Regions from separate parts of the Homo sapiens genome. Here region 1 is linked to region 2. Evidence: fine-mapped expression QTL. Tissue or cell type: whole blood. Region 2 holds a variant in brackets; the other region holds the start of a gene. All regions are shown on one strand. Distances are from middle to middle.

Evidence for each region. PIP is the estimated chance that this variant, and not a neighbour inherited with it, causes the effect.
Region 1: it holds the start of SPATA13, and the variant in region 2 is fine-mapped to the expression of SPATA13 in whole blood (INTERVAL, PIP 0.97).

The regions. Positions count from the first base shown.
Region 1 is chr13:24,159,169-24,161,857 of GRCh38, forward strand. SPATA13 (spermatogenesis associated 13) reads left to right here and starts at 1,552. Exons shown (of 13, transcript NM_001166271.3): 1 at 1,552-1,764. RefSeq lists a silencer at 1,443-1,502.
Region 2 is chr13:24,234,915-24,237,603 of GRCh38, forward strand. The region is part of intron 2 of SPATA13 (spermatogenesis associated 13); the gene reads left to right. Among named protein-coding and RNA genes, the nearest start is that of SPATA13-AS1, 18 kb to the right of the region's middle. The variant T/G (reference allele first, on the strand shown) is at 1,296.

The DNA of each region.
Region 1 (2,689 bases), 76 kb before region 2:
GCATTTGTGAGTGCTTTGTGCAGATTTTTTATAGAGTAGAAATAAAATGGAACAGTCAATGATATTAGCCTCACATACTATGTTTCTAAAATTTTCCAAGGTTTGGTTTTTATATTTTTTCAGCTTTAAAAATACATGGTCATTGTTAAAACTTGGGGTAATTTCAATAACAATTCAAAGAATTAAATAAAATTTGCCCATATTTCCACCACCCACAGATAATTATCATTAATCTTGGAGTGTGCTTTAATTAATAGACTATTTTTAGAGCAGTTTTAGGTTTAGAAAACAGGAATGGAAAGTACACGGAGTTCTGATGTACTCCCTCACGCCCCTCCCTCCACACACAGCTGCTTGTACTGACATCTTACATTCGAGTGGCACATGTGTTATGATTGATGGGCCCATGTTGTTACATTAAGATGAACTAAGTCCATTACTTACAGGAGGCTCACGCCGCATGCTGTTCATTCTGTGAGTTTTGAGAAATGCATAATGACATGAAGCCACCATTATAATGTCATACAGAGTTTTTTCAATATTTTAAAAAACATACATAAAATTAATTTTCACTTTTCATTGGGTAATATAATTTTTGTTTTTTATTTTACAGATTGTGGGTATTGTTCTTTGATTATAAAAGACAATAGACATTTATAAATAATAGTGCTGGCCACTAAATGAATCATCTAAAAAACTACACTGGTAGAAAGCATGCATTTATTTTATGAATTCCATTAGCTGCCTATCAGGGAACATGGAGCACTGGGGCACAGATCCCAGCACAGAAGGGTTTGCTTCTCTTCTGTGGTTTTCATGTCAATTAATGATTAGGCCTTGAGCCTCACAAGAAAGGTGATAGGCCTTTGAGTCGGTTTACTGCAACAGTCTACTCAAGACTTGCCCCAGGCCCTGGGAAACATGTAGGTTTAAAAATCCCTACCCTGCGTTTTCCTTTCACAGGGAGTGAACTTCTGGCCCAGGCAGTGGGCAGTGGGGCACGGTTGCCCCGGAGATGAGACTCCTCTTCCCGCCCTGGGGGGTGGGGGCTGGCTGGTGGCTGAGGGAACTATTTTTGTTTGTTTCTTTTTTTAAAAAACGGAGTCTGGCTGTGTCCTCCAGGTTGGAGTGCAGTGGCGCGATCTCGGCACACTGCAACCTCCGCCTCTCGGGTTCAAGTGATTCTCCTGCCTTAGCCTCCTGAGTAGCTGGGATCACAGGCGCCTGTCACCACGCCCGGTTAATTTTTATTTTTATTAGAGACGGGGTTTCACCATGTTGGCCAAGCTGCTCTCAAATTCCTGACCTCAGGTGATCCGCCCACCTCGGCCTCCAAAAGTGCTAGGATTACAGGCAAGAGCCACTGCGCCTGGCCGGGGAACTGTTTTTGATGGGTGGGGTCCCCGGCTGTGGTTGGTAGTGTGGGGGCGTGGCCGAGGGTGTGGCCTGAGGGAGTGAGCTAACCGGGGGCGTGGCCTGATATGGGGCGGGGGGAAGAGCCGGGCTGGGGGCGTGGCCTGGTGGGGAGCGGGGCTGGGGCGTGGCTTGGCTGAGTGTGCTGCCGCGGCGCGGGAGGAGAGTGTGCGTTGCGCTTTCTCCCGCGATCGCCCTGCCGGTCGCTAGCTCCGAGGGCGCGCACTGGATCCCAGGCTCCTCCGAGAGTGCGGCGACCTCGGGGCTCCGCCGGCACCGGAGGTGGCTCTGAGGGCAGGGACGTGTTGGACACGCTGACTTTGTAGGCTCCGCCAAGAGGCGCCGCAGGAGGTAAGACGGCTTCGGGCGCGCGGCTCTGCCGGGCGGGCGCGGGCATGGGCTGTTAGGTAGAATATCGGGAGGATTTGAGTCCCAGTGGACTGCCTCGGGGCTTCGGGATGTCCAGCTCCCAGCTGCTTGGCCTCTGCTTCCCCCGCCGGTGGAGGCTACCGGGTGCTCACCTGTTAGGTCCGTGCGCCCGCTCCCTGCCCGGCGGTGGCTCTGCGCCCTCTGGGCCACCCGGCACCATCGCTTTTGGGAGGACATGCACGTGGTGTTCTCGCAAAAGGCCGTTTCCAGCCGGAAGCCTGCAGGGAGGTCGCCTTGTAACTTCACCCGCGCTCCCAGCTCGCGGGGCCTGGCCTACAGGGGCGGCCGTGGGGGTGGCAGAGTCTGGGGAGCCTGGCGCGGCGGAGCCCTGTAACGCTCTGCTCCATCGGGTGGCGTGGCTGGTGCCTCCGGGGACCCGGAGCGATGCGGTTGGAGAGCTTAGTTTAGAAAGCAAGTTTCTCTTGGTACCAGCGGAGTCTCGTCCCAGGGGAAAGATTTTGGGACCCGGTGCCCATCGTCTGTGGACTGCAGGGAATGCATTGGCGGAGTTGGTTTGGTCCCATTCTGTGCAGGAGGTGGGGGAATTGGTACTCCAGCCCCAGGCAGGTAGAAGCCCGCGCTGCTGCCAGCGTCAGGGGGAGCTCGGGTGACTTGGGCTGGGCCACCCATCTGACTGCAAGGTTACAGAGCTTGAGCAAATTTCCCCTCCCTCCAAGTGCAGGAAAACCAAACCAAAGCAAGCAAACAAAACCCTGTGGGTCATTTGCTTCCCAGCATTGCATAGGGATGTGGATAAATAGAATAATACTGTGAATTTATTCAGCTCTTGTTCCCATGGCTTCCCATAGCCTTATATTATGCACCTCCCCCTGCCAGCATTTTCTCT
Region 2 (2,689 bases):
TAGCAGTATGTTCTTAAGAAAGACACTTGACCTACTTAAGCCTCAACTTCTTAAAAAATTGGGATTATAGTACTGCCTGAATTAAATGAAATAATGCATGTATGGTACTTACCACAGTGCCTTGGAACATGGTAAATCGGGTTAATAGTAGCTTTTATAACAGAAATCATTGTTATGATTGAAATTATTTCCTTTGGTCAAACATTTCAGTACAGACCAGTTAAACTTTGCAAATTATGTACTTCTAAGTTATAGCCGGAGCAAAGACCTCGCCCTGAGTTACAAACCAAAGCTACAGATTCCTGAACCTCACCCAAAGCTACTGAATTAGAGTCCCTGAGGTTTAGACCCAGAAATTTGGACTATCAGCAATCAACTCGGGAAAATGACTTTTGTCAATGCAAACTTTGAGATTCGCTGTCCAGGCTGAGGCTCCTCTAGGTATAAAGTGTCCTGTACTTCTCCAGAATAGAGTGATTGAAGCCAGGGAGGCATGCCGGAAAGAGAGAAAGATTGCTTGTAAAAACTTTTCAAGCAAGAAATGGTGTGATAAAGAATTGGTCTGGCTGACGTGGTGGCTCATGCCTATAATCCCAGCACTTTGGGAGGTCAAGGCTGGAGGACCACTTGAGCTCAGGAGCTCGAGACCAGCCTGGACAGCATAGTGAGACCTTGTCTCTTAAAAAAAAATAAAAAGCCAGGTGTGGTGGTGCAAGCCTGTGGCCCCAGCTACTTAGGAAGCCAAGGTGGGAGGATTGCTGGAGCCTAGGAGATCGAGGCCACAGTGAGTTATGATTGCACCACTTCACTTCAGCCTGGCTGACAGAGTGAAACCCTGTCTTAAATAAAATAAAGAATTTGGTCTAAAATATGTTGAGCAGTGTAAGTCTAGCAATTGCTCCATCCACTACTGAGAACTAGAATTTTTACCAACTCATTTGGGATTTTAAAAAAGTAACTGTTTCTTGAAAATAAGAATATAAATAATAACAGCTCAAATTGATATGCCTTTTCAGTGGATGAAGTTCCATCATGCAACACTGTTGCATTCAGTTTTCACAGCCACTTGTGACATAGGTGATTTTTGTATTTGCTTTAACAGATGAGTAAACTGAGGCTTGGAAAAGTTCAAGGACTGTCACATAAGTAGTGAGGGGTGGGGTCGGGCCTGCAGCTGGGTTTCCAAATGGGGAAGGAGGCCTAGAATCAGCATCTGCTTTGGGATGTGGCTTGCAGACATGCTCACCATTTATTAGCCTCCTCATCTCTTGAGGAATCACTTAATCTTTCTTATC[T/G]GTAAAGTAGAATTAAATGCATCTACTTCAGAGAGTTTTTAAATTAAATGACATAAATGATATCTTCAACAACAACAAAAAACACAGCCCCATTTAAAAAATGGGCAGAGGACTTGAATAGACATTTCTCTAAAGAAGATATGCAGGTGAGCGGGTGGATCACCTGAGGTCAAGAGTTTGAGACCAGCCTGGACAACATGGTGAAACCTTGTCTCTACTAAAAATATAAAAAAAAATTAGCTGGGCGTGGTGGCACGCACCTGTAGTCCCAGCTACTCGGGGAGGCTGAGGCAGGAGAATCACTTGAACCCAGGCGGCGGAGGTTGCAGTGAGCCAATATTGCGCCACTGCACTCCAGCCTGGGTGACAGAGGGAGACTCCATCTCAAAAAAAAAAAAAAAAAAAGATATGCAAATGATAAAGTATATGAAAACATCTTCAGTGTCACTAATCATTAGGGAAATGCAAATTAAAACCATGGTGAGATACTACTTCACACCCATTAGAATGGCTACTATAAAAAAAATAACAAGTGTTCACAAAGATAGGGAGACATTGGAACCCTTGTGCATTGCTGGTGGGAAAATAAAATGATGGTACGGCTGCTGTGAAAAACAGTGTGCTGATTCCTCCAAAGTTAAACATAGAATTACTGTATGATCCAGCAATTCCGTTTCTGGGTATATGTCCAAAAGAATTGAAAACAGGACTCAAACAGGTATTTAGACACCCATGTTCATAGCAGCACTATTCATAAGAGGCAAAAGAAGGAAACAACCCAAGTGTCTGTTGATGGACAAATGGATAAAAAGTATAGTGTGTACATATACTGCGGAATATTATTTATGCCTTAACAAACATGCTGCAGGCTGGGCGCAGGGCTCACGTCTGTAATCCCAGCACTTTCTGAGGCCGAGGTGGGTGAATCATGAGGTCAGGAGTTCGAGACCAGCCTGGCCAACATGGTGAAACCCCATCTCTACTAAAAATACAAAAAATTAGTTGGGCATAATGGTGGGTGCCTGTAGTCCCAGCTACTCAGGAGGTGGAGGCTGAGGCAGGAGAATCTCTTGAACCCAGGGGGTGGAGGTTGCAGTGAGCCGAGATTGCACCACTGCACTCCAATGCTGGCGGCAGAGTCAGATTCCATCTTAAAACAAAACAAAACAAAAAAAACATGCTGCAGCATGGCTGAACCTTGAGGACATTGTGCTAAGTGAAATCAGCCAGTTACAAAAGAATAAATACTGTATGATTCCACTCACATGAGATCCGTAGAGTAGTCAAATTCATAGAGACAGAAAGTAGAGTAGTCATTGCCAGGGGCTGTGGGGGAAGAGAGTATTTAATGGGTTCAGAGATACATTTGGGAGAGATGAAAAAGTTCTGAAGAT